Regions from separate parts of the Homo sapiens genome. Here region 1 is linked to region 2. The links come from fine-mapping of genetic effects on plasma protein levels. A gene starts in region 2. The other region holds a variant in brackets. All regions are shown on one strand. Distances are between the middles of the regions.

The links. PIP is the posterior inclusion probability: the model's chance that the variant is causal. Protein levels are from antibody-based Olink assays in UK Biobank. Linkage for the fine-mapping came from a reference panel and not from the study's own genotypes, which makes the PIPs less certain.
Region 1: its variant is fine-mapped to the plasma level of the C1S protein (UK Biobank, PIP above 0.99).

What each region holds. Positions count from the first base shown.
Region 1 is chr12:7,025,564-7,041,640 of GRCh38, reverse strand. It overlaps the pseudogene RPL37P20 and the pseudogene LOC100419825. Among named protein-coding and RNA genes, the nearest start is that of LPCAT3, 15 kb to the right of the region's middle. The variant T/C (reference allele first, on the strand shown) is at 7,375.
Region 2 is chr12:7,050,488-7,064,581 of GRCh38, reverse strand. It overlaps C1S (complement C1s), which reads right to left and starts at 3,864. Exons shown (of 12, transcript NM_001734.5): 1 at 3,705-3,864; 2 at 2,665-2,743; 3 at 1,900-2,107; 4 at 1,515-1,692; 5 at 190-315. The coding sequence starts at 2,669. RefSeq lists enhancers at 3,276-3,775, 3,776-4,277.

The DNA of each region.
Region 1 (16,077 bases), 24 kb after region 2:
TGGAGAAAATACCAGCCCAGGAAGCAGCAGGCTCACCAAGGGTCCGATTTCAGTTTTTGGAGACCCAGTCTGAGAGTCTGACTCCAAAGCCTCATTTTGTGCAGGACACCGACATGGAACAGGGACTCACTAGGGTTCCACCTGTTCCCCAGGTGCCTGCCTTTCCCCATGAGGACAGCCCAGGAGATCAGGCAGCTGCGCTCCTGACAGCCAGGTATCAGCAGTTTGTGACATCTGAGGATGTGGCTGTGCACCTTACTCAAGAGGAATGGAGATACCTGGACCTTGTTCAGAGGGAACTCTACAGAGATGTGAGGTTAGAGAATTATGGGAATGTGGTCCCACCAGGCATACTTCTCCCCCTTCCACCAGATTCATAGTGTGAATTTTTGCCCGGCCCTGAGTCATACCCAGGCAAGTGCTTTCTCTGGAGAAACTTAGTCCTTACAGCAGGAATCTCCAAGAGATGGCCCAAGTATTACCTGCTCAGAAACTCCTTTTCCATGATTGCCAGATATTAAACTTAACTGATGCGATAGATGCCCCCTAGGATGCCACCACTATGTAAAATCGCAGCTCCTCGAATTACCTTTGTTAAATTTCTAGTATCAGAGTCCAAGGAAGCCCCCTGCTGCAACCAGATGCACTTTGAACTCAGTTTATTCAGAAACCATGGTTGGTGGTCATCTTCTACTTGTGTTCTGAGAAACCACAAAATTCAACTTCAGCTCTTCAGTTATGATATTGTCATATTATTTTAGAATGTGAAACATATGCCGTGTGCCCCTCCTTTTATGTAGTGAATACAACCTGCCCCTTATGGTGGTTAACTCCCTGTCACCCCTGGGCTTTCCTCACGTTTAACACTCTGGTTTTCTCCTTCCTGAAGTCCCTGTGGCCCTCTTCAGGGTCCTACCCTCCTCCCCTTTATTCTTTGCAGTTCTGTACAGATTGATGCACTTATATTGCCTTTTCTGATTAAATGTTCCTTAGTCTTTCCTTGATGGAGGGGAGAAGGGAGGACAAAGAAGTTAAATTTTATTTTGGGGCATCAAAACAAATGTCTACTTAGTAACTTTGTAAACTGTAAAGTGATATATATAATTGTGAAGTACTATTAATTTTACCTAATAATTACAGAGTGTTCAACAGTTTAAAAAAAAAAAAAAGAATGCTGGCCAGGTGCAGTGGGTCACGCCTGTAATCCCAGCACTTTGGGAGGCTGAGGCAGGAGGATGGCTTGAGACCAGGAATTCAAGACCAACCTGAGCAACATAATGAGACACTGTCTCTATAAAAAAAAAAGAATAATGTTATAGAAAACCAAACAGAGAAGCCAGGTGCGGTGGCTCAACGCCTGTAATCCCAGCACTTTGGGAGGCCGAGGCAGGCAGATCACGAGGTCAGGAGATCAAGACCATCCTGGCTAACACGGTGAAACCCTGTCTCTACTAAAAATACAAAAAAATTAGCCGGGTGTGGTGGCGGGCGCCTGTAGTCCCAGCTACTCAGGAGGCTGAGGCAGGAGAATGGCGTGAACCTGGGAGGCAGGGCTTGCAGTGAGCCGAGATCGTGCCACTGCACTGCAGCCTGGGCCGGGTGTGGTGGTGCACACCTGTAATCTCAGCTACTCCGGAGCCTGAGGCAGAATTGCTTGAACCAGGGAGGCAGAGATTGCAGGGAGTCAAGATCACGCCATTGCACTCCAGCCTGGGCAACAAGAGCAAGACTCCATCTAAAAAAAAAAAGAAAGAAAAAGAAAGGAAAGAAAGAAAGAGCAAAGAAAAGGTAGGAAAAATCTTTGGGACCTGGGAGTCATTGAGGAATTCTTAACCATGACACCAAAATCAGATCCTTAAAAAGGAAAATTGATAAATCAGACTTCACCAAATTTGAAAAGAAAAAAACCTTTTCTCTGCAAAACCCCCCTTAAGAGGATGTAAAAGATAAGCGATGGACTGGGACAAAATATTTACAAACCACACACACACAAAAGCCTTGCATCTAGAACATGTAAGAACAAGTCGCAGCTGGGAGCAAGACTAAGAGGATGAGCAATGGCAGACTTGCCCGGCTGCAACAATGCTCCACGAGTGAGGGGCCGCTGCTCGCTGGCCCCACACGTCCAAGGCAGCTCTCGTGGCCTCCAGCTAACAGTGCCACCCAGGGTCAAACCGAGGGCAGAAGGCTCAGCCTTATGCTGGAAACCCAACCTTGGCACCTCCCGTGTTCCTTGTGGGAACATCTGCTCCTGCAGAAGGCAGAAAAGGTTGAGGCAGGAAGCTGTGCGGATGGAATTGAGAAAGAAGTAACCGAGAGTGTGCAGTGAAGGGAGGGAGGGAGCCCCCTGCACGGCAAGGTGGTAGCCGAGTACTCCAGAGAAGAGGACCTGGGCTCTGCCCAGTCCTAGAGCGTCAGATGGTGACACTCTGATGCTAAGGCACACTCATTTTATTATTTCTAACGTCAGGGTGCGCCTTATAATCAACAAACCACAAAGGAGATCATAAGCCACACTCACGAGAATTAAGAAGTTAATTGAAAAATATTCCTTGTCCTTGCTCATTGTGGCTCAGCGGGTCAGACTCACCCTGCAAACACAATCACTAGAAAAGGTGCATCTCCAAGGGAAACGCCAACCTTTCCTATCACTCCACGGCCCCAGAGAAAGCCCAAATACAAACACAACCAGGCCCGCCAGGCCTCTCTCCAGTTCCTGACCAGCAACTCTAGATCCCCGGGCGGGGTTCAGCTGCCCTTCCCGACTGCCACTCAGAATAACGAACAAAGCCTGCCGACCCGCCTGAACATGGCAGGGGAACGGCGGTTCCGTCTGTGTAAGACACGCTGCTGCCTCGCAGTGTTTCCGGAATTGGTGAATTTTTGGTCTCACTAACTTCAAGAATGAAGCCGCAGACCGTCGCGGTGAGTGTTACAGCTTTTAAGGTGGTGCGTCTGGAGTCTGTCCCTTCAGATGTTCAGATGTGTTCGGAGTTTTTTCCTCTTGGTGGGTTCGTGGTCTCGCTGGCTCAGGAGTGAAGCTGCAGACCTTCGCGGTGAGTGTCACAGCTCTTAAGACAGCCCGTCTGTAATTACTCGTTTTTCCCTATGGGCTCGTGGTCTGGCTGGGCTCAGGACTGAAGCTACGGATCTTTGCGGTGAGTGTTACAGCTCATAAAAACAGCGTGGACCCAAACAGTAACAAAATTTATTGCGAAGAGCTAAAGAACAAAGCTTTCACAGCGCGGAAAGGAACCCGAGCGGGTTGTCCATACTGGTTTGGGCAGCCTGCTTTTATTCTCTTATCTGGCCCCACCCACATCCTGCTGATTGGTAGAGCCGAGTGGCCTGTTTTGTCAGGGCGCTGATTGGTGCGTTTACAATCCCTGAGCTAGATATGAAGGTTCTCCACGTCCCCATCAGATTAGTTAGATGCAGAGTTTCGACACACAGGTTCTCCAAGGCCCCACCAGAGCAGCTAGATAGAGAGTGTCGATTGGTGCATTCACAAACCTTGAGCTAAACACAGGGTGCTGATTGGTGTGTTTACAAACCTTGAGCTAGATACACAGTGCCGATTGGTGTATTTACAATCCCCGAGCTAGACATAAAGGTTCTCCAAGGCCCCACCAGAGCAGCTAGATACACAGTGTCGATTGGTGCACTCACAAACCTTGAGCTAAACACAGGGTGCTGATTGGTGTATTTACAATCCCTGAGCTAGACATAAAGGCTCTCCACGTCCCCACCAGACTCAGGAGCCCAGCTGGCTTCACCTAGTAGATCCCGCACCGGGGCTGCAGGTGAAGCTGCCTGCCAGTCCCGTGCAGTGCGCTTGCACTCCTCAGCCCTTGGGTGGTCGATGGGACTGGGCGCCGTGGAGCAGGGGGCGGCGCTCGTCGGGGAGGCTCGGGCAGCACAGGAGCCCATGGAGGGGGTGGGAGGCTCAGGCATGGCAGGCTGCAGGTCCCGAGCCCTGCCCCGCGGGAAGGCAGCTAAGGCTCGGTGAGAAATCAAGTGCAGCGCCGGTGGGCTGGCACTGCTGGGGGACCCAGTACACCCTCCGCAGCCACTGGCCCGGGTGCTAAGTCATTGCGCGGGGCCGGCAGGGCTGGCCGGCTGCTCCAAGTGCCGGCCCGCCAAGCCCACGCCCACCTGGAACTCCAGCTGGCCCGCAAGCGCCGCACGCAGTCCGGGTTCCGGCTCGCGCCTCTCCCTCCACACCTCCCTGCAAGCTGAGGGAGTGGGCTCCAGCCTTGGCCAGCCCAGAAAGGGGCTCCCACAGTGCAGTGGTGGGCTGAAGGGCTCCTCAAATGCCGCCAAAGTGGGAGCCCAGGCAGAGGAGGTGCCAAGAGCAAGCGAGGGCTCTGAGGACTGCCAGCACGCTGTCTCCTCTCAGCAGAAGCCTCGGCAGGGCGCTGGGCTGCAGAGTACCGTGCACAACTAGGGCACCTCCCTCCCTCCCCCGCCAACACACACACACACAGCCACAAAAGCACAGCCCCAGGCCAGGAGCACACAACTGCCCTCAAATGCCCTCACCAGCCTCTAAGGGGAGGCCACGTCCACGTGACTTCAAACAACACTAGACTAGGATGCAACCAGGAAGCTGAGTCAGGGCTACACACCTCCTACGCCCCCATCTGTGTCCTCCCCAAACCCAGTCAACACAGGGGCGCACAGGGGCTGGCCGGGACCTTTGGGTATACAGCTGCAACCTCTGGAGGGCGTTTACACCGTGAGCTACGAGTACTTATTGGGGTTCAGCTGGAAGGTGGCTCCCTCTGACCATCTCCCCAGGACACACACGAGCTTTCTGCCATTCTCTCTGACGGGGCAGGCCTGCTTGGCATGGGAAGTCTCTGCAGATAAGGCCTTCTGCAGTGACGTGAGAGCTCAGTGGCCTAGAGGAAGCTAACCTCCAGCACTACCCAGCCACAGAGCAAGGGGCTCTTTTCAAACTGATTTCTTACCCTTCCTAGTGCCTCAAACTAGATCCTGTTCAGACATGTTATAATAAAGTTAGTAAGAATTTATTTTGGGGCCAAAATTTTTTTAATCCATGCATAGTTTTTTTCATAATATGCATTTTTCATACACTTTTTAAGACCCTCTCGTATATGTCGGACTCTAGTCTGAGTCTGAAAGCCTTAGAACCAGGAGATCCAATGGTATAAGTTTTATTCTGACTCTATGGGTCCAAAACCAGAAGAATAATATCTTAGCTCAAAGACAGAGTGTAAATTTTCCCTTACTTGGCCTTTTACTCTAGTCAGCCCTTCCATGGATTGGATGAGCCCCACTCACCCTGGGGAGGACAATCGGCATTACTTAGTTTACCAATTCAAATGTTAATCTCATCCAAAAACACCTTCACAGGTATATCCAGAATAATGTTTAACCAAATATTTTGGCATTCCATGGCCCAGTCAAATTGGCACATAAAATTAACTGTCACAAGTCCACCCCTTGTCAACTTGACACCCAAATGTATCTTCTGAAACCATTCTTATTCTCCAAATAAAAACAATGACAAGGTCATAATTCCACCCAACGTGATACAATCATTCTACATACAACTGAAAAGGCACTACCTCTTCCCCAGAAGAGAAGGCGAAGTCCTTAAATAATGTTTGTTCTTCTCCTTGATATCTCATAACTTAAACACTATGATGTAAAATTTAAAATAGTTAAATACTATGATATAGAGTCAATACATTTTATGTTACAAAACAGGAAGTAAGAGAGGAAAGAAAACAAGGATATTTTATATATATTCATTACAAAACAAGGAGAGTACATCCGAGACCAGCCTGGGCAAAATGGTGATACACCATTTCTATTAATAACAATTAATTTAAAAATTAAAAATAAATTTTAAAAAAACGAGAAGTACTTATGATAATTACAGTCTTCATTTCTGTAAGTGATCATGTGGTCATAGCTGATATTTATAACTGCCTTTTTCCACTACCCATTCTGTATGTCCTTTGCCTTCAGCAAGCACCTCACTCAGCTGGTTGTGGTTCTTTATCTGGTAGAGTGAACCAAACCTTCATTCCTGCAGGGACTGGGCCATTAGTAGTCCTGCCTGGATTGGGCTGTTGTAGTTTTCCATTGACATTAATCACAGGCATGACAATACTAAGAGATGCTCTCAGGGGTCTCCTGTATTCCAGGCATGTTCCTCCTTACCTTCATTGTGAAGAGGCAGTCCAATTTCCCCTTGGTAGACAGGATCAATCACCAACCAGCCCAGTAATTCCCTTCTTTGCCTGTTGATTCAGAGGTATAAGGAGGGTGAAGTGACTGGGTGGCAGTCTTAAGATCCAGTTCAATTGAATCATTGCTGTCTCTTGGTGGGAGAATTATTCCCATTGGAACTAAGACCAGTAGACTGGCATAGCATAAGGTTTCAGAAACAGGAAGCAAAAATCCTGCTAGTGGGTCACTAGAGATAATAGTGAGTGGTGCTGCTCCCTTTTCCACCCCTTGATTCCTGAACCAGTGAATCTTGGCTATGGGAGAAACAGCACCATATGATGGATGCTGATTCAGAGCACATTTAGCCCCCTGGAGAACATATTGCTGCAGCCCTGCAATATATTGCCATCTAGCTGGTGCTGTAACTGCATCTTCAAATAATCCTATCATCTTATCAAGCCCATTGGTTCATGAAACATGGTAAGACCAGTGAATTCCATGAGGATGGGCTCACTGCTACACTTCTTTTGCTGAGAAGTGAGTTCCTAAATCAGAAGCAATGCTGAGTGGAATATCATGACAATGGATAAAGCATTCTATAAGTCCACAAATGGTAATTTTGGCAGAAGCTGTGTATGTAAGGATGGAAAATTGTTATCCAGAGTAAATTTCTGTTCCAATGAGAACAAAATACTGCTTCTTCCAAGATGAAAATAGTCTAATGTAATCAATCTGCCATCAGGTAGCTGGCTGATCATGCTGGGAAATGAGGCCATATCAGGGACTCTGTGTTGGTCTCTGCTGCTGGCAGATAGGGCATTCAGCAGTGGCTGTAGCCAGGTCAGCCTTGGTGAGTGGAAGTCCATGTTACTAAGCCCATGCATAATGTCCATCCTGGCCACCATGGCCACTTTATTCATGAGCCCACTGGGCAACGGCAGGGGTTCCTAGAGAATAAGGCTAACTGGTATCTACAGAATGGGTTATCCAATCAATTTATTATTTTAATAGATAACTTCTGAGATTACCCTCTAGTAAGCATTCACATGGGACACAAATATCTTTATTTTCCCATTCAAGATGTCTATCCATATACCTCTTCCCCAAATTTCCTTGTCACCAATTATCCAATCATGTTCCTTCCAAGTCCCTGATCATCCATCCAAACCA[T/C]TGACCACAGAACATGAATCAGAATATACTTGCACATCTGGTGTCTATCTTTTCAAGAAAAGTGAACGGACTTAAACTGCTTAAACTTCTGCCCACTGGGCCACGTGCATGGTGCAAGCCTGTAATCCCAGCAACTCAGAACGGTGAGGCAGAGGATTGCTTGAGCCCAGGAGCTCAAGACCACCCTACGAACATAGCTGACACTGACCCTATAAATTTTATAAAAGTAACCAAGGAAGAAGATAGGGGATAAATGAAAATTAACCCAGCTTGCAGCACACTCAGCATTGATCAATAGGTCAGCCTGCTCCCTGATCTGCTTCTTCATGGTTGTTTGGTGCCTATTGTCCTAAAATCATGTAGACCTTAAATTATTCCCCTAAACTATCCTATAGATAACACCTAAATATTATGAAACATTAAGATTTCCCTTTGAGCTAGGTGAGGCGGTTTGTGCCTGTCATCCTAGCACTTTGGGAGGCTGAGGTGGAAGGATTGCTTGAGCCCTGGACTTTGAGACCAGCCTGAACAATATAGTGAGACCTTGTCTCTAAAATTAAAAAAATTAAAAAAATAAAAAAAATTCCCTTTGAGATGGTCCTTCAGGTCCTGCATTCTGAGGAAACTATTCAGCTGAGAACCCCATGGCCACCAGCTGATCTGAAAGATTCCACTGACTAACTTGGTCTGAAGGGTCCCACTAACTCAACTGGTCTGAAGAATGCCATTCATTCAACTGGTCTAAAGGACCCACTGACTCCAGTGGATCTGAAGGACCCTACTGATACTAGCTGATCTGAAGGATCCCACTGACACCAGCTGATCTGAAGGACCCCACTGACACCAACTGATCTGAAAGATCCCACCGACTAAGCTAGTCTGAAGGGACCCACTGACTCAGCTGATCTGAAGAACCCCACTGACTTAGCTGATCTGAAGAACCCCACTGACTTAGCTGATCTGAAGGACCCAATTGATACCAGCTGATCTGAAGGACGCCACTGACTTCAGCTGATCTGAAGAACCCCACTGACACCAGTTGATTGGAACGATCCCACTGACTCAGCTAGTCTGAAAGATCCCACTGACTCAGCTGATCTGAAGGACTCCTCTGACTCCAGCTGATCTGAAGGACTCCACTGACTCCAGCTGATCTGAAGGACCCCACAGACACCAGCTGATCTGAAGAACCCCACTGACTTGACTGGTCTAATAGACCCCAGTAACTGAGCTGGTCTGAAGGACCCAACTGACAGCAGCTGATCTAAAGGACCCCACTGACACCAGCTGATCTGAAGGACCCCAGCTGGTCTGACTCAGCTGGTCTGAAAGACCCAATTGATACCAGCTGATCTGAAGGACCCCACTGACTCAACTAATCTGAAGAACCCCATAATGCCAGCTGATCTGAAGGGACCCACTGACACTAGCTGGTCTAAAGGACCCCACCGACACCAGCTGGTCTGAAGGACCCCATGAGGAGCTGACTCACCAAAGAATGCAGTTTCCACGTCCTGATTATTTTATCTCTCTTGTGCTGCCCAATCAACGATCCCAATTCTCCAGCCTCTCATCCTCCACAATCCCCTTAAAAACCCCAGCTCAGAACTCCTAGAGGACATGAAGTTGAGAATCTCCTCCCAGCTCCGCATCTGGCTGCCCATGATAATTAAATGTTTTCTCTTCTGCATCCCTGCTGTCTCACTGTAATTGGTCTATTACTGTGCAGGAGGCATATGAACCTGTTGGTCATGTAACAAAGTGAGATCCCATCTCTTTTTATTTCTTTTTTAGATTTTGTTAAACCATGGCATTTATTGACAAATAATAATAGTGACAATAATAGTGAAAAATCATTGAAATTCTTCAGATAAACTAGTTGCTGCAATAGCTGCTCTCTTGGGTTTAGGTGGTGTTCCTCCACAGAATCCATGCTTGAATCTGTGGTATACAATTTTCAGGTGCTTCATGCAATCAGTCCTGGTGGTATTTTGTCTTTTAGCCTTTGCACTCCAGTTACACTTTCTCTTGCACTTGGCAGGGTAGTCATAGTTGTCACAAGTAGACTTCTGAAGGTGCTAGGCCTTAGAGCCATGGCAGTGGCACAACATGTGTGTCTTATTGCAATGCTTTCAAAACAATGACGTTCCCTTCATCATCTCACTTCTGCAGGCTAGACCAAAGAGACTGGAGACCTTGTCTCTTAATAAAAAATTTAAAAATATAAGTTATGTCCACTGAGAGTGCTTTCCTTCATCACTGTCCTTCAGGGATGTCACAGAAAGGGGCTGTAGTGCTGCAGCACTCTTGGGTGGTGCATATGTTCATGCAGAACCAGGCCTAAGTCTTCCCTTCTGTCAACTGATCACAGGCAACTCCCCATTAAGTCACAGGGGCAATCTAGGAGACAAATGTAGTGTAGCAGTGATGGTGGCATTGGCCTGTCTGGAGCAGCCACTGTGGGAATGCTAGCTGCAGTGGGAAAGGTGAGTCCAGGGCTGCGCACACTGTGAAGCCAGTGGGGGCTAGAAACATGCAGGAGCCCCGCCCCCTACTGAGTTGGCAGGGCAGGAGCCCTGGACTCCTGGGTGCAGCTACAGCCACCCAGCCATGGCTCTGGACCAGGGCATCCCTGTCCTCTCAGTGGGCCAGGAAGCCACTATGCTCCTTCAGGCTCAGAAGTGTCTGCTCTTGCTCCCTGGCCTCTCCCCTCTCCCAGCACACGCTCCAATTTTGGAGCAAAGTTGAAGCTGAGCCTGGTGTTGTCACAACCCTGTGGGTGTGCACATGATCAGGGCACCACCAACGTGCCAGCCCCTCCTGCTTCAGTTCTCTCCAGACTTTTGGGCACCAGTGAGCACAGGAGGGAGACCAAGGTGGGGGCGCCAAGGGAAGCTCGGTACAGGCCTCCGGGCACCCCTTGGTACAAATAGCCTGGGTGGCACGTTGATGGTGGCAGGAGGCAGACAGGCTCCTGGGTGAAAAGGGGTGGGTCTCTGATGAAACCCCACCTTCAGGCCAGGGATGTCCTGAAGCCAGGCTGCCAGTTCTGGGTGGAGTCCATGCCCTGGAGTGAGAACTTATGGTGCTTTTTCCAGGCCCACCCATAGCCACCCATGGACAAATCAGCACATATTTCCTCCCTTCTGAGCCCATAAAACCTGGACTCAGCCAGATGTGAATAGGTGTTGGGACTACCAGTTGCAGAAAGGGGCTACCCACTACAGGTCTCCTTTCTGCTGAGAGCTGGACAGCCATTGGGCCAACCTACCTGCAGAAAGGAGCTACCCACCATGGGTCTCCTCTCCACTGAGAGCTGGACACTCATCAGGATGACCCACCCACCTGTGGAAAGGAGCTACCCACTACAGGTCTCCTGAGAGCTGTTCTATCACTCAATGAAGCTCCTCTCCACCTTGCTCACCCTCCAGTTGTCTGCATACCTCATTTTTCCTGGATGCGGGACAAGAACTCAGGACCTGCTGAATGGTGGGACTGAAAGGGCTGTAACACAAAGAGGCCTGAAACATGGTCCCCTGCTTGCCACATTGTGGGTGACAAGAAGGAGAGAAGAGCTGTGGGGCCCTCCAGGGAGCCCAGACCTAGGGGCTCCATGAGCCAGGGCTGTGACACCCTCTTTGGGGCTCTACGGTTCCTGGCGTCTCCAAGCTTCTGGGCACCACCATGTTCCCCTTGTCCAGACACGTGTGGTATAGCTGGTCCAGCTGCAGCCTTGCATGGAGCCAGCATCTAAAGCTGCCACCTGCCCTGCCGCAGCAACCTGCATGCCTGACTGTGTGCAGTGGCTAGACCCCACACTCACTCGCTCACATACCCCTTGCCACTCTGCACCTGGCTCACCCTTGGCAGGTGTGGGATCCGGGCCAGTAGTGTGAGCTGACCACAACCTGCCAGGCCAAGTGGGCAGAACAAGCCCAGTGGGCATGAGCAGTACTCGGGCAGAAGGCACCACCAGCCACAGAGGTTTCCAGTGGGCAAAGTGACACCCCAAGGATCCCGTGACAACAGGAGGCGCGACAGTGGACATTTGGGCCACTTCTTTTTTTTTTTTTTTGAGACAGAGTTTCACTCTTGTTCCCCAGGCTGGGGTGCAATGGTGCGATCTCGGCTCACCAAAACCTCCGCCTCCCGGGTTCAAGCGATTCTCCTGCCTCAGTCTCTCGAGTAGCTGGGATTACAGGCATGCGCCACCACGCCCGGCTAATTTTGTATTTTTAGTAGAGATGGGGTTTCTCCATGTTGGTCAGGCTGGTCTCTAACTCCCAACCTCAGGTGATCCACCCACCTCGGCCTCCCAAAATGCTGGGATTACAGGCGTGAGCCACCGCGCCCGGCCTGCCACTTCTTCATGTAACTTACTTGTGCCTTCATAGCCTGCTCAGCCCAACTGAAGTATATACCACTTCCATTTGATGATGGAGTTCTGCTGTGTATGCCCAACTTTATGGTTTGGTGGGTCAGGCAACACTCAGCTCATGATGGGCAGCTCAGGTTGCATAGTAACTTGGCGGCCCATGGGTAAGTGTTCAGTCTCTATGGAGACTCAGTATCAGGCTGAGAGCTGTTTCTTTTTCTTTTTTTTTTTCCTGCAGTTTAAATTCAGTAAGAGGCCGGGTGCGGTGGCTCACGCCTGTAATCCCAGCACTTTGGGAGGCCGAGGTGGGCGGATCACAAGGTCAGGAGATCGAGACCATCCTGGCTAACACGGTGAAACCTCATCTCTACTGAAAATACAAAAAAAAAAAAAAAATTAGCTGGGCGTGGTGGCGGGCGCCTGTAGTCCCAGCTACTTGGGAGGCTGAGGCAGGAGAATGGCATGAACCCAAGAAGCAGAGCTTGCAGTGAGCCAAGATCGCACCACTGCACTCCAGCCTGGGTGATAGAGCGAGACTCCGTCTTAAAATAAAAATAAAATTAAATAAATAAATAAATAAATAAATTCAGTAAGAGTCGTGTCTTAAAAGCAGAGTAGGCTGGGTGCAGTGGCTCATGCCTGCAATCCCAGCACTTTGGATGGATGAGGCAGGTGGATTATTTGAGCCCAGGAGTTCAAGACCAGCCTGGGCAACATGGCAAAACCCCATCTCTACTAAAAAAAAAAAAAAAAAAAAAAAAAAAATTAACTTAGCATGATAGTGCACGCCTGTAGTCCCAGCTCCTCAATGGGGGGCTGAGGCAGGAGGATCACCTATACCTTGGGAGGTTGAGGCTGCAGTGAACTATGATCACACCACTGCACTCTAGCCTGGAGGACACAGTGAGACTCTGTCTCAAAAAAAAAAAAAAAAAAAAAAAAGCAGAGTAATTATCCACCAAGGCTGGCAGGGCTTTGCTCCAAATCCTAACGATTTGCATTGAGATTCACCTATAGGGGCCTGCCAAAGGCTCCAAACAATATCCCTTTCTCCACTGACACTTCAAGCATCACTGGGTCTGCTAGATCACACGGCCCAAGTGATACAGCAGCTTGCACAGCAGCCTGGACCTGTTGCAAAGCCTTCTCTTGTTCTGGGCTCCCCTAAAAGCTAGCAGCTTTTTGGGTCACTCAGTAAATGGGCTGGAGTGACACACCCAAATGAGGAATATGTTATCTCCAAGATCCAAAGATCACTAGGTGTTGTGCCTCTCTTGGTTGTTGGAGGGGCCAGATGCAACAACTTATCCTTCACTATAGAAGGGATCTCTCAACATGACCCACACCATTGGACCCCTACAAATTTCACTAAAGTAGAGATCCTTAATTTTTTGTCAGATTTATTTCCCACTCTCTGATACACAAATTTCTTATGAATAAGTCTAGAATAGGCTGGGCGTGGTGGCTCACGCCTGTAATCCCAGCACTTTGGGAGGCCAAGGTGGGCAGACCACAAGGTCAGGAGTTCAAGATCAGGCTGGCCAATATGGTGAAACCCCATCTCTACTAAAAATACAAAAATTAGCCGGGCGTGGTGGCGGGCGCCTGTAGTCCCAGTTACTCAGGAGGCTGAGGCAGAAGAATCGCTTGAACCCGGGAGCGGAGGTTGCAGTGAGCCAAGATCGCACCACTGCACTCCAGCCTGGGCGACAAAGCGAGCCACCATCTCAAAAAAAAAAAAAAAGTCTAGAATAGTTGCCACTTCTTGGTCTAGAATAGTTGCCACTTCTTGGTCTAGAATAGTTGCCACTTCTTGGTCTAGAATAGTTGCCACTTCTTGTTCACTAGGTCTGATCAGCATAATGTCATCAGTGTAATGGTGATTGCAATTGGCAATCAATGTGATATCTTGTGGAAGGGAAAGGTAATCAAGATCCCAGAAAACTAAATTATGACATAGAGCTGGGGAGTTGGACAGGCATGGTGGCTTATGCCTATACTCCTAGCACTTTGGGAGTCTGAGCCAGGAGGATCACTTGAGCCCAGGAGTTCAAGACCAGACTGGGCAATATAATGAGACCCCATCTCTACAAAAATAAAAATTAGCCAGGTGTGGTGGTGCATGGTAGTGTATGTCTATAGTCCCAGTTACTCAAGAGGCTGAGGTGGGAGGATCACTTGAGCCCAGGAGGTCAAGACTACAGTGAACCATGATTGTATCACTCCAGTCATGGAGAACCATGATTGTATCACTCCAGTCATGGAGAACCATGATTGTACTCCGGCCTGAGTGACAGAGCAAGACCCTGTCTCAAAAAAAAAAAAAATGAGCTGGAGAGTTGATATACCTCTAAGGTAGGACAGTGAAGGTTTATTTCTGGCTTTGCTGGCTGAACTGAAACTGCTTCCAGTAATTTTTGCTAACAAATATCAAGAAAAAAAGCGGCCAGACATGGTGGCTCACACCTGTAATCCCAGCATTTTGGGAGGCCGAGGCGAGTGGATCACCTGAGGTCAGGAGTTCGAGACCAGCCTGACCAACATGGAGGAACCCTGTCTCTACTAAAAATAGAAAATTAGCTAGGCATGGTGGCACATGCCTGTAATTCCAGCTACTCAGGAGGCTGAAGCAGGAAAATCACTTGAACCTGTGAGGCAGAGGTTGCAGTGAGCCGAGATGTGCCATTGCACTCCATCCTGGGCAACAAGAGGGAAACTCCATCTCAAAAAAAAAAAAAAAACAGACACCAAGTCCAGAAATTAAAGCTATTCAACTCCTCAGGTCCAGAGGCTATTGCAGAAGAGGTGGGCACATGAGATTGTAAGGGCTGCTTTTGAAAGATAAAACAAGTTCAGTTTCTCTATAAATTAATCATGAATGTCAAAGACACACTGATGCAAGACTAGCATATGGGCCCCTGTGTCAGATTAACAAGGTTTTCTTGAAGCATTAACTGACTCCTCAATAAATGTTATAAAGGTTGTAAAAGGCTCATGGAAGTTATATTTTATGGTCAAGATTAAAATTTTATAGATGGTTTATAAAATTTTGAAAACCAAATTTAATTGGCTTCATGCTGTTTTTATTAAGGCTTATCATTTGGAAAATTGTCTCCCCTCTCAAAGAATGAAGGTTTTTACCTTTTTTTTTTTTTTTAATCCTTCAGTTATCACTTTGGTTAAATGTATGACTTATTTTACAATGACCTGTGATCCTATTTTGATATCAAGTGTTGTAAAGCTTTGATATTTGACAAACTTTCCAAAATCAAATGATAAATTATGTCTTTTTCTGACCTAATTATTCCTTTAAGATATTAGTTTCCCTAAATTCTAAAAATGACATAATTTGGTTTATTTGTTACAAAAATGATACAAGAAGCATTGTCAAATATAAAATGGTGTTTGGTTTTCTTTGGACTGTATTTGTATAAATATGATATTGGTATGTGTTCCAAAATTATGGGAAACTCCTGTAATTCTGATATGACTTGGTGTACATTATCAGTAATAATCAAAATCATTATGTTAAAATTATTGTGTACCACAGAAGTAACAAATTTCCTTGTCAATGTGTCTTTGACTATGGCTGCCCTAAAACTTTTTGTCTTCTAGGGACAATTGTAATGTTTTGGTCCTCTTTAGAAGGTGGTTTTATAATCAGCTATAAAACTCTACAGGTGCTCTTGAATGCAGGTTTTTTTATAACTTTGGAGATTGTGACATTGGAATAGAGGAATAACTTTTGGGACTAATGGGGAGCTAAAATGTTCATGAATATCAAGCAGAACAGGAATTAACTGCATGGACTGAACTAATCTTTTTGACTTTTTGTTTAAAATATTGCTGAGGCCGGGCCGGTGGCTCACACCTATAATCCCAGCACTCTGGGAGGCTGAGGAGGGTGGATCACGAGGTCAGGAGATCGAGACCATCCTGGCTAACGCGGTGAAACCCCATCTCTACTAAAAATACAAAAAATTAGCCAGGCGTGGTGGCAGGCGCCTATAGTCCCAGCTACTCAGGAGGCTGCGGCAGGAGAATGGCGTGAACCCGGGAGGCAGAGCTTGCAGTGAGCGGAGATCGCGCCATTGCACTCCAGCCTGGGCGACAGAGCAAGACTCCATCTCAAAAAATAAATAAATAAATAAATAAATACATACATAAAACATTGCTGATCCTGGCCAGGCATGGTGGCTCATGCCCATAATCCCAGCACTTCAGGAGGCTGAGGCAGGTGGATCACCTGAGGTCAGTTGAAGACCAGCCTGGCCAACATGGTGAAATCCCATCTCTACTGAAAATGCAAAAATTAGCCAGGCATGGTG
Region 2 (14,094 bases):
AACACCAGTACCCCCAAAACTATTGAAATTATTAAAAATAATACATAAATAAATAAATTCTAAAATAAAAAAGAAGTGCCAAATGAAGGCTTGGCCTAATCGAAGTTGGAAGGGTGGACAAAGCCCTTTCTGAGGCCTCAGCCATTCCAAATCCCAGGGAACATGCAACCCTCTTAACACCAAGCTCACCTCCGCAATTCTTCATGTCATCATGGAGGAAATATTCCGGGGGGCAGGAGCAGAAGTAACCACCAATGAAATTGTTGCAGAAGTGGCTACAAGGGACATCTACAAAATCTGTGCATTCATTTATGTCTACAAAGAGTAGAAAGAGGCTGAGGTCAAGAACAAACACCAAGAAGGGAGAATGAGGTTAAATCCAAAACCATAAGGGTAAGAAAAAGTAGGAAAGGCCTATTGCTTAAAGATCCGTCAAGGGATCACATTTCAGGCTACTATTATTCCATATTACTCTCCTGACATATGATTCCAGAGTTGAGCCCTACCACTACACAGCTATAAGGAAGCTCGGGGGTGTGTGTGTGTAAGTGACATAGCCTCACTCTGTCACCGAGGCTGGAGTGCAGTGGTGGGATCTTGGCTCACTGCAACCTCCACATTTTCAAGCAAGTTCAAACAAGTCTCACGCCTCTACCTCCCGAGGAGCTGGGAACACAAGCACGCACCACCACTATGCCTGGTTAATTTTTCATATTTTTAGTAGAGACAGGGTTTCACCATGTTGGCCAGGCTGGTCTTGAACTCCTGGGCTCCGGTAATCCACCTGCCTCAGCCTCCCAAAGTGCTGGGATTACAGGTGTGAGCTACCATGCCCGGCCTAGGCAGCTCTTAATGTCAGAGATCCTTGACTTTTCTCATGTACAGAGCATTTCAGCTCCAGGAATGACACTCTGCAAGGTAAACATCATGACGATGCCTTCTGCAGGGAGGAATCAGTACATTCATTGCTTTATATGATGTTGGTCCTTCTGTCAAATCTAAACAATAGTTTGGCTTTATGAGATGTCCTAGCTTCATTTTAACCTAGAGAGAGATACAGAAGTACCCAGAATTTGAAGGTTTGAATGCCATATATTGAATGGGTTTAAATACTACACATTCCTTGTGTGATTCTTGGCAAGTTATTAACTTTCCTAGTCCTTATTTTCTTCATCTTTATATGGAGCAAATAATACCTACCTTGAAGGATTAAAGTGACGATTGTGTTAAAATAGGAAAAATCCCCAATCCCCAATACATACCCAGTTTATAGTGGCTCTCAACAAATTGCTGTTTATTATGTACTATGTGTTATTACCATGATCATCATCACCACTAAGATATGATCATGCATTTGAATTTCACAAAAGTGATTTATGGAGCGACCCAGGCCAAGTCAACACTTTTTATAAGAATTACGAACAGAATCCTCATTCAATGTGTTGCTCAGTGGATTTCTCATTTCTAATCTTTTAGCTGGGTCAATAAGGCACATGCAGAAGGGTGAGCCTTACCTGTGGCAACATAGTATGCAGCAAACCCCGTAAAACGCTCTTCATTGGAAAAGTCTGACTTAAAGATCACCTGGAGTTTGTTGTATGGGACTTGGAACTCTTCCACAATTGGAGAGTGGGGATTGTTACTGCTCCTCTGTCCACAGAGCCTCCCTTCTTCAGTGTCTCCTGAGATTATCTAAGAGAAGAGTCACAAAAAAAAAATCTAGGAAAGGGTAATATTTTGGTATGGAGTTAAAAGAAGGGACAGAGAGAATAGAACATTTATGCCACTAGGACTTGACTCCAGTTCACTGTGAGTACAGGTGGCACTCCCTCCCACATCCTTATTCCGCTACCTTAGCCCTAGTCTTCCATCTCTATTCTTTTTGTGCTTATAACATACCTGCACTGAGTCATACGCACAGTTCTCTGACAGCTCAATGTCCAGATGGGTGAAGTAGAGGTGAATCCCATACCCTTCAGGAACTTCTATGTCCCAAGATTTCTCTACCTCACTGGGATATGCCTGAGGATAGTTAGGGGACAGGATCTCCCCATACATGGTAGGCTCAGCATAAACCCATGCCAAAAGTGAAAACAGGACAATGCACCTGAAAAAACAGAGGCATAGATTGGCGGGTGACCAGGCACCAGTAGCCTAGGACAGAACGCGCTATTTGCCAGAGGCAGAAGAAAGGGGGAAGAAGAGAGGCAGTCAATCGGCCATGGGGGAGAATCTTAGGTCGGAATAAAGAAAAGGCCCAGGTCAAACCAAAACCCAGGCTTCAGACAAGAGCCCTTTTTTTTTTTTTTTTGAGACAGGTTCTCACTCTGTCACCCAGGCTGGAGTGCAGTGGTGCGATCTCAGGTCACTGCAGCCTTGACCTCCCGCGCTCAAGTGATTCTACCACCTCAGCCTTTTGAGTAGCAGGGACCACAGGTGACACGCATGACGCTGGGCTAATTTTTTTTTTTTTTAATAGAGACAGGGTCTCCTTATGTTGCCCAGGCTGGTCTCAAAGTCCTGGGCTCAAGCAATCCTCCCGCCTCAGCCTCCCAAAGTGCTGGGGTTACAGGTGTGAGCCATCATGCCTGGCCCTTGAGCGCTTTTCTTGAGAAGATGAAGGGAATGGAGTCTGTGTCATCTCAGGGACCCTTGATCACTTACCACATCTCTGGCGATTTGTCCACCCTGGTGAGCTGCCTGTCTCTTGGTCCTGGCTTTCTGCACCTCCGGACTTTGGAGCCTAAGGGGTGGCAGGCCTGGCTGTATTTGTCTGACAAACACAAGCACCTTCTTTGGTGGTGCGGCGTCACCTGGGGCTCAGTGTCACCTTCAAAGGTATAACACACAGGGCCATATCACCAACATCCCCACATGGCACCGTGCCCCTCACACCCTCCCTAGTTAACTTCGACTAACTTTCTAGACTATAGCTAAATTGTATCCTTCCCTCATTGCTTCTCTAGACTTTCTCCTAATTTTTCTCCAAAGGAATCGAGTACTTTCTCCCAGTTTTCTTCTTCCTCTATTGTCCTCCACCAGCCCCACCCCCGCGGTATCAGTCTCTCTCCTGCCCTCAAGAACGATGCTCCCATTTCCACTCAGGTTTTCAACAGTCTTGGCGCATCATGATCATCCATGTAGGACAGCCCCTCTTCTTTAACCGTGATCACCTCATCTCCTCAAGCAGCCCTGTCTGCTGTTTATCATTGCGTGCATCTCCGCTGATGCTCCCAACGCCCACCGATGGAGGCAGGAGCTTCTTTCACTAGGGGAAGGCAGGGACCCTGGGACAAGCGGTCTGAGAAGGAAGTGCTGCCCCACTGATACAGGGTTGTGCGAGGAAGGAGAAAAGGGACAGCCAAATGACAAGGAACATAAAAACTTCCTACATTCGTTTTCCAGAGTTTGTTTGGAGTTTGTCCCTGCCCCCCACCGCCAACTTACTGAAAATACAAGCTATCTCCCCACAGTTCCTAGTAAAGGGTTGCTAAAATTGCTTTAACCCTGAAAACAGTGGTAGGTAAGGGGGTGAAGTAGGGGTGGATGGGGTGAGCCTAAGAGAAATAGGTTGTCTATATTCTGCCTTTTTTTATGCTGCCTTTGTCAGCCCTCTATCATTGCCCCAAGCCCTCCTACGTGAAGTTTTCTGCCTTTCCTTTTTCCTCCATCAAAGCTCTGCTCCTCGTTTGTAAGGATTTTACCTTCAGAAGCTGGTAGGAGCAAGTGGGTCAGTTCCCTCTCTCCTGCCAGTGGGCATGCTGGGCAACCCCTCTGGCCCCCAGGGACAGCAGCACAGGGCCTTGACGCTCCCTCTGCAGGAACCTCCGGCCAGCCTCCCTGTCCTGGTTCTGTTCATAAGATTCCCTACCCGAGTGTGCATGTCTGAAATTCCCTGATCTAAACAGAGGGGGCTGGGAGACCATGACTTAGGGAAACTCAGCCTTGATCTTGGAGCTCCCTCTGCTTTTGAAACAAGGACAGCGTCCTCCTCCCAGGCCAGAGAGCCCTCTATCCAGGGCTCCAGCGGGGAAAGGAGGAATGGGGAATTTCACCGATTGCTTAATGCTATTTTTCAGCCAAAGGGTGTGTTTCTGAGTTTTCGGGAAAGTCAAGTGATTTCTGGGAAAAGGCGGGGATTGGTACCAGGGGAAATAACCAAACCCAGAAAGTCCAGCCCTCCAAATGTGTGTGAATCATGAATTAAGGGAAAGTAGTTATCAGAAATGTAAGTCATCTCTGCTTTAAAGCAAATGTAATGGTTGATAATGACTTAACACCAAGACCCAAGGTGGTATGGCGTGAGGCTTCCTCTTCATAACATCCCTCCACATCCCTTCCAAACATCGAAATTCTACCCCACAACCAAGCCCCCTTTCAGATCCAACCCAGACTCCCTTATCCATAACCCTTGAAGCCAGGTGTGTTTTGAAATTTTATAGATTTTTTTAGGCTATGTAGTCCATGGACCCAATATTAGGTAACACCTCCTCCTCTCCCTCCCTTTATGGACCAGGATAACCCCCTATTAACAAACATTAAGATTTCTGCAGCTAAACACATTGATCTTACGGTAAATGGATAACTAAAGATTACAAATCACATCAGTTCGGGTCAGGTTTTGCTGCCAAATTGAGTTTTAGTCCCAAACTTGAAAACAAACAAACAAAAAACAATAGCCAGGTATTGTGACACACGCCTGTAGTCCCAGCTACTCAGGAGGCTGAGGCAAGAGGATCACTTGTGCCAGGGAGGTCGAGGCTGCAGAGGGCACCACTGCACTCCAGCCTGGGCAACAGAATGAGATCCCATTACAAAAAAAAGACAGAGACTTTGTTTTCAGAGTCCTTTGGATTTTAGAATTGCAGACAAGGGACTGAGGGGCAGTGCCACTCCACAGAGCCTTCCCTGATCTCAGCTCCCCTTTATGCCCCTTTAGTTGGCTTAGCACTGGGCCTGGAGTCAGAAGATAGGCTCATGTCCCAGCTCTGCTCCTCACCAGTGGTGATGTCTTAGGCTCATCACCTAACTTCCTAGTTTCTTTTTTTTTTTAAACCTGGCTCACTATTGACAGACCTAGTTTCTTCAAATATAAAACAGAAATCCTATCAGTTCTGCCTACCCTACATGACTATCAGATGGACCTAATGAAATAATTCGAGTGAACAAGCTTTGCACACTATGGTACCTAATAAATGTGCATGTTAAAAGGAAGAGAATCATGAGCCCGTAAGGTCTCGGAAGACAGGTGCTGGGTCTGATCCGTCTTGGTATTGTCCGCCATGTCTAGCAGTGTCATGCAGAACACAGATGTGTATGCAACCATCTGTGACTCCCCTGGCTGCCCAGCATTCAAACTGCTTTGCCACATTAGAGGAGTTCCCCATGATATCAGTCTTGGGAACAGAGCCGACCTCCCAAGAAAGAAGACACAGGCACAAGAAGTGTGTCACCCCCACCTCCAGCAGCTCTGGAGCAGGCTAATTTGTAATCACCCGAAGGGTTCTTCCTGCCTGCTGCGTAGACAAAACCAATTCACTGAGACCATGGTATTGCAGTAGAGAAAGAGTTTAACAACACAGAGCTAGCCAAGTGAAAGGATGGGAGTTTATTTCTCAAATCAGTCCCCACAAGAACTCAGAGGCTAGGGTTCTTAAGGAGAATTTGGTGGGCGGTAAGAGCAGAGAATGGGTGCTACTGATTCGTTGGGGATAAAATCATAGGAGTGTAGAAAACAGACCTTGTGCACTAAGTCCACCTCTGGGTGGGGGTCACAGGACCAGTTGAGTCATGAATCATTTCAGAATGCAAAAGTCTGAAAAATATCTCAGAAGACCAATATTTGGTTTTACAATAGTGATGTTATCTATAGGAGCAATTGGGGAAGTCACAGATCTTGTGACCTCTGGCCGCATGACTCCTGAGCAGCAAAGGATTATAGAAAGGCAAGCTAGGGGTCAATGGCTGGTCATCGGTTAGCTACACCCACATCTTAGCAAAATTCAAGCCCCTCCCATAATCCTAATCTTGTGGCCTTTCATTAGTTTTACAAAGGCAGGTCCCTGAGCTAGGAGGGGGTTCATTTTAGGGAGGGACTAATATCATCTTTGCTTCAGAGTTAAACTGTAAACTAAATTCCTCCCATGGTTAGCTTGGCCTATGCCCAGGAATGAGTGAGGACAGCCAGCCTGTGAGGGTAGAGGCAAGATGGAGTCACCCATGCTAGACTTCCCTCACTGTCATCATCTTTGCAAAGGCAGTTTCACATGCACACACGTTCCATTCATCAGAGGCCCAGGCTTTCAATCCAGAGCCAGTAATGCCAGGAAGCAGGGACCCTAGAGCCTGTAGGGACAGTGGTGGCCACAGCAAGATCACAGAGGAGGTAGAGTTCTCAGCAGCACCCAGCATCCAGCCCCAGTGGGTAAGCATTGCAAGCCGAAGCATCCAGGCCATGGTCAAAGAAGTGGCAGCAGCGGCAGCCAGGTTCTGACCATTGTCCCTGCTGGGAAGCTTCCACAATGGCTCTGTAGCTCCCCTGGAATTTCCATGAGCAATCCAGGGTCCCTTTAATAAATTCATCTTCTGCTAAACTCAGCCAGAGTTGGTTTCTACTGCTTGCAACTAAAAATAATGGCTGATACAACACGCTCAGTGAGTATCTGAGGATTGGTTGATTGAATGTGCCAAAGTGAATTCAAACCATTCATTACCTTTCATTTTAGCCGTGTGACCTTGAAAAAGTTACTATGCCTCTCTGAGCTCCAGCTTTATCAGGTGTAAAATGGGAATAATAGCACCTACTTCAGACACAGCTATCACTGTCAGGGCCCATTGTGGCCAAGATTAAACAAAATAACGTATGCTAAGCATTCAGCATATACCTGGTACTCAGTAAGCTTTTAACAAATAACAAACCATATTAACTTCTCCAAACACCAAACACGGCAGCAGTAGCAGCAGCTTCCTCCCCATCAAGAGCATGCTTCAGTTAATACCAAGGAAAAGAGGACGCCTTATCAATGTGTCCAGGGTTCCTTCTCCTTTTCCTTGGAGCTCAACACTGCCCGATCTTGCCAGAAAAGTTAGACTCTCCTATCCTCACCTGTGTTTTATGTTCATTTCTGCAATTTTGCCACGAAATTGAAATACATTGCCAGGAGCAGTGGCTCACACCTGTAATCCCAGCAACTCAGAAGGCTGAGGCGGGAGGATCGCTTGAGGCTGGGAGTTCAAGACCAGCCTAGGCAACATAGGGAGACCTCATCTCTACAAAAAAGTTTAAAAATTAGCCATCCTGTGGTCCCAGCTACTCAGGAGGCTGAGAGGCAGGAGGATTGCTTGAGCCCAGGAGTTCAAGCCTGCAGTGAGCTATGACCACAGCATTGCACTTCAGCCTGGGTGCTCCGTTTCCCACCTCAAATTTCATTGGTCAGGCATAGTGGCTCATGCCAAAGTGCTGTAATCCCAGCACTTTGGTAGACCAAAAAGAGAGGATCACTTGATGCCAGGAGTTCAAGACCAGCCTGGGGAACATAGCAAGATTTCATCTCTACAAAAAGTCAAAAAATTAGTCAGGCATAGTGGCACGCACTTGTAGTCCCAGCTACTCAGGAGGCCAAGGGAGGAGGATAACTTGAGCCCAGGATTTTGAGGCTGCAATGAGCTATGATCACACCACTGCACTCCAGCCTGGGCAACAGAGTGAGACCCTGTCTCAAAAATAAATAAAATAAAATTTCATGCAGCCATGTTATCTAAGTAGCTATCGGAGATCCACAATGAGATTAAATGATGGTATTAAGAAGCTCCAACAAGGGATTGCCAACAATAAAGGTTTTGAACAACAAATAACCCTCCCATTTTCAAATTTGAACAACAAATAACCCTCCCATTAATCAAACTCCAAAATTAAAGTTCAAATCCCATTGCAAACTGAAACTATGACATTAAAGTCAAAAGTAATTGAAGCCCAAAGTGTCTATGTTAAAGTCACAAAACTATCAGTTCCAATTTGTGTTCTGTTTAATCCCAGCTAGTGGGTTTCCAATCCCTGGGCAGAGCTGTGGTCCCTTCCGAAGCTGCGGCCTGGGCTGGAACAGGTTAGTTCCTCCAAGGCTTCAAAGACTGAGTTCTGAGGCAAACCTTCCATGAGTCTGTTTTTAAAATTCCAGAAAGTTAATGAGACACAAGAATATTGCAACACCAGCCCCACAACCACAAAATTTAGAAAATGAGCTATCCCCAGACCCCAAGACAATCATCCCAAGCAAAATTAAAATTGTATTTCCAGAAACCACCACTTAATGTCACCAAAATCTGAAGAAGAAATTCAGTGGTATCTGAGGGCAACAGAAAAGCTTAAGCTTAGTTTAAAACCTTACCTTGAGGCCAGTCGATTTATGCCAGTTGTTCAGAATCCATGTCCTGTGGGCCAGGTGTGGTGGCTCACACCTGTAATACCAATACTTTAGGAGGCCAAAGCAGGAGGGTTGCTTGAGTTCAGGAGTTTGAGATCAGCCTGGGCAACATGGTGAGACCCTATCTCCACAAAAAAAAGAAAGAATGCCAGGCATGCTAGAGCATGTCTGTAGTCCCAGCTACTCAGGAGGCTGAGGTGGGAGGATCACTTGAGCCCTGGAGGTCAAGGCTGCAATGAGCTGTGATCACACCACTGCACTCCAGCCTGGGCAATAGAGTGAGACCCTGTCAAAAAAAAAAGTCTATGTCCTGTGAACTTAAACACCATTGGAAGAAAACATGTAGAAAAAGGTTAATTGGGCATTTTGTACTTGCCATATCGGGATCCTCGTAGGTGGAACTTCTAAATTTGCATCCCCTCCCACCATCTCCTGACCTTGTCCCCATGAGCCCCAAGCTGTGGGCTCTTCAGTGCCTTGTTAGTTGGTGAGCTCTCCCTAGTTAGAACTCTAGCAGCCTCCATGATATTAAAAAGGACAGACATTTCCATCGTGTGCCTCTTTTATGACTTCTGCCACTCCTCTTTTTTGGACTCACTAAGACCTAAAAAGCCTTCTTCCTAAGGAGGGCTTTCCCCACACCCTCATGTTCATTTCAGCTGAAGGCAGCACCCTCAGCAGACTTTTGAACTGAGGTTGTTACTAGGTGTCACTCCCGGGTGGGTGGTCATCCTGTCTTGTTTTCTCTGTTCTCTGTGGGTCGAGTTGTTTTCTTGATGAATGCCAATGCATGTACCTTCTGCTCATTGGGAAGGGCTGTCTGGCCTGGGATTCCAGCACAACCACCACGCCCTTACCTGGCCCCTTTAATCAGAGGCAGCCCAACAGTTAAAGGAGCACCCACGCACAGAGAAAAGAAAGAACCAATGCAGGAACTCCAGCAACTCCAATGGCCAGACTGTCCTATGTCCACCAAACAACCTCACTAGTTCTCCAACAAGGGTTCTTAATGAGGCTGAGTTGGCTGAAATGACAGAAATAGAATTCGGAATATGGATAGGAATGAAGATCATTGAGATTCAGGAGAATGGCAAAACCCAATCCAAGGAAACTAAGAATCACAATAAAATGATGCAGGACCTGACAGATGAAATAACCAGTAAAAAAGAGAACCTAACTGATCTGATAGAGCTGAAAAACACACTACAAGAATTTTACAATGCAGCCGGGCACAGTGGCTCATGCCTGTAATCCCAGCACTTTGGGAGGCTGATGCAGGTGGACCACTTGAGGCCAGGAGTTCAAGACCAGCCTGGCCAAATAGTGAAACGCTTTTTCTACTAAAACTGCAAAAATTAGCTGGGCATGGTGGCATACGCCTGTAATCCCAGCTACTCAAGTGGCTGAGACATGCCAATCATTTGAACCTGGGAGGTAGAGGCTGCAGTGAGCCAAGATCATGCCACTGTACTCCAGTCTGGACAACAGAGTGAGATTTTGTCTCAAAAACAAAATAAAATAAAAAATAAAAGAATTTCACAATGCAATAACAAGTATTAACAGCAGAAGAGACCAAGCTGAGGAAAAAATCGCAGAACTTAAAAATTGGCACTCTGAAATAAGATAGCCAGACAAAAATAAAGAAAAAAGAAGGAAAAGGAATGACAAAACTCCTGAGAAATATGGGATTATGTAAAGAGGCCAAATCTACAAATCACTGGCATCCCCGAAAGGGATGGGGAGAAAGTGAACAACTTGGAAAACATATTTCAGGATATTGTCCATGAAAATTTCCCCGACCTCCCTAGAGAGGTCAACAGTCAAATTCAGGAAATACAGAGAACCCCTGCAATATTCTACACAACGAGATCATCCCCAAGACATATAATCATCAGATTTTCCAAGGTCAAAATGAAAGAATGTTAAAGGCAGCTAGAGAGAAAGGGCAGGTCACCTACAGAGGGAGCCCCATCAAGCTAATAGATTTCAGCAGAAACCCTACAAGCCAGAAGAGATTGGAGGCGTGTATTCAACATTCTTTTTTTTTTTTTTTTTTTTTTTTTTTGAGACGGAGTCTGGCTCTGTCGCCCAGGTTGGAGTGCAGTGGCGCGATCTCGGCTCACTGCAAGCTCCGCCTCCCGGGTTCATGCCATTCTCCTGCCTCAGCCTCCCGAGTAGCTGGGACTACAGGCGCCCACCACTACGCCCGGCTAATTTTTTGTATTTTTAGTAGAGACGGGGTTTCACCATGTTAGCCAGGATGGTCTTGATCTCCTGACCTCGTGATCTGCCCGCCTCGGCCTCCCAAAGTGCTGGGATTACAGGCACAAGCCACTGCGCCCGGCCTCAACATTCTTAAAGAAAAAAAATCTTCAACCAAGAATTTCATATCCAGCCAAACTAAGCTTCCTAAGCAAAGGATAAATAAGATCCTTTTCAGATCAGCAAATGCTGAGAGTTTGTTACCATCAGACCTGCCTTACAAGAGGTCCTGAAGGGAGCACTAAATATGCAAAGGAAAGGCCATTACCAGCCAATACAAAAAGACACTTAAGTATACAGACTAGTGACACTATAAAGCAACCACACAAATAAACCAGCATAATAACCAGCTAACAACACAGGATCAAATCCACACATATCAATAATAACCTTAAATGTAAATGGGCTAAATACCCCCATTTAAAAGGCACAAAGTGACAAGCTGGATAAAAAAGCAAGATCTCATGCTGTCTTCAAGAGATCCATCTCACACACAATGACACCTATAGGCTTGAAATAAAGGGATGCAGAAAAATCTATCAAGCAAATGGAAATCAGAAAAAAATCAGGGATTGTAATTCTAATTTCAGACAAAATATACTTTAAACCAACAACAATCAAAAAAGACCGGGGCATTACATAATGGTAAAGTGTTAAATTCAACCAGAAGATATAACTATCCTAAATATAAATGCACCCAACACAGGAGCACTCAGATTCATAAAGCGAGTTCTTAGAGACCTACAAAGAGACTTAGACTCCCACACAATAATAGTTGGAGGCTTCAACACTCCACTGACAGTATTAGACAGATCATCAAGGCAAGAAATTAACAAAGATATTCAGGACCTGAACTCAGCATTGGACCACATGGATATGATAGAGATCTACAGAACTCTCCACCCGAAAACAACAGACTATGCATTCTTCTCATTGCCACATAGCACATACTCTAAAATTGACCACACAATCAGACACAAAACAATTCTCAGCAAATGGCAAAAAACTGAAATCATAACAAACACACTGTCAGACCACAATGCAATAAAAATAGAAACCAAGACTTTAAAAAATCACTCAAAACCATGGAATCAAACAACCTGCTCCTGAATGACTTTTGGGTAAATAAATAATAAAATTAAGGGAGATGTTAAGAAGTTCTTTAAAACAAATGAGAACAAAGATACCACATACCAGCATCTCTGGGACACAGGTAAGGCAGTGTTAAGAGGGAAACTTACAACACTAAATGCCCACAACAAAATGTTAGAAAGATCTCAAATTAACAACCTAGCATCACAACCAAAAGAACTAGAAAAGAGCAAACCAACCCCAAAGCTAGCAGAGGACAAGAAATAACCAAAATCGAGCTTAACTGAAGGAGATTGAGATACAAAAAACCATTCAAAGATCAACGCATCCAGGAGGGTTTTTTTTTTAAAGTTAATAAGATAGATAGGCTACTAATAAAGAAGAAAAGAGAGAAGATTCAAATAAACACAATTAGAAATAACAAAGGGGATGTTACCATTGACACCGCAGAAATACAAACAACCAGCAAAAAACTACTACCAATATCTCTATACACACAAACTAGAAAACCTAGAAGAGATTAATAAATTCCTGGACACATACACCCTCCCAAGACTAAACCAGGAACAAACTGCCTGAACAGGCCAATAATGAGCTCCAAAATTGAATCAGTAATAAATAGCCTACCAACTACAAAAAAGCTCAGGTCCAGATGGATTTATTGCCAGTTTATACCAGATGTATGAAGACAAGCTAGTACCATTCCTACTGAAACTAACCCAAAAAACTGAGGAGGAGGGACTCCTCCCCAACTCATTCTATGCAATCAGCATCATCCTGATACCAAAACCTGACAGAGACACAAGAAAAAAAGGAAAACTTCAGGCCAATATCCTTGATGAATATCAATGCAAAATCCTCAACAAAATACTTGCAAACTGAATCCAGCAGCACATCAAAAAGCTTATCCACCATGATTAAGTGGGCTTTATCCCTGGGATGCAAGGTTGGTTCAACATACACAAATCAATAAATGTGATTCATCACATAAATAGAACTAAAGACAAAAACCACACGATTATCTCAAAAGATGTAGAAAAGGCTTTTGATAAAATTCAACATCACTTCATGTTAAAAAAAAATCTCTCAATAAACTAGGTATTGAAGGAACATACCTCAAAATAATTAGTCACCTATGACAAACCTACAATCAACAGCATACTGAATGGGCAAAAGTTGGAAGCATTCCCCTTAAAAACCAGCACAAGACAAGGATGCCCTCTATCACCATTCCTATTCAACATAGTATTGGAAGTACTGGCCAGAGCAATCAGGGAAGAGAAAGAAAGAAAGGCCAACCAAATAGGAAGAGAGGAAGTCAAACTATCCCTGTTTGCAGATGATATGATTCTATATCTAGAAAACCCCATAGTCTTGGCCCAAAACCCCTTAAGCTTATAAATAACTTCAGCAAAGTTTCAGGATACACAATCAACATATAAAAATCACCAGCATTCCTATACAAAAACAACAACCTAGCTGAGAACCAAATCAGGAATGCAATCCCATTCATAATTGCCACAAAAAGAACATAATACCTAGGAATATATACAGCTAACCAGGAAGGTGAAAGATCTCTTCAATGAGTATTATAAAATACTGCTCTAAAAAATCAGAGATGACACAGACAAATTGAAAATCATTCCATTCTTGTGGATAGAAAGAATCAATATCATTAAAATGGCCAATACTGCCCAAACCAATTTACAGATTCAATGCTATTCCTGCCAAACTACCAATGACATTCTTCACAGAGTTAGAAAAAACTATTTTAAAATTCATATGGACCCAAAAACAAGCCCAAATAGCCAAGGCAATCCTAAGCAAAAAGAACAAAGCTGGAGGCACCATGTTACCCAACTTCAAACTATACTACAGGGCTACAGTAACCAAAGCAGCATGGTACTGCTACAAAAACAGTCACATAGACCAATGGAACAGAATATAAGGAGAGCCCAGAAATAAGGATGCAAACCTACAACCATCTGATCTTGGACAAAGCTGACAAAATCAAGAATGGCAAAATAACTCCCTATTCAATAAATGGTGCTGGGATAACTAGCTAGCCATATGAAGAAGATTAAAACTGGACCCCTTCCTCACACCATTTACGAAAATCAACTCAAGATGGATTAAAGACTTAAATGTAAAACCCAAAACTGTACAAACCCTGGAAGACAACCTAGGCAATACCATTCTGGACACATGAACTGGGAAAAATTTCATGACAAAGATGCCAAAGGCAATCACAACAAAAGCAAAAATTGACAAATGGGATCTAATTAAACTTAAGAGCTTCTATACAGCAAAAGACAACATC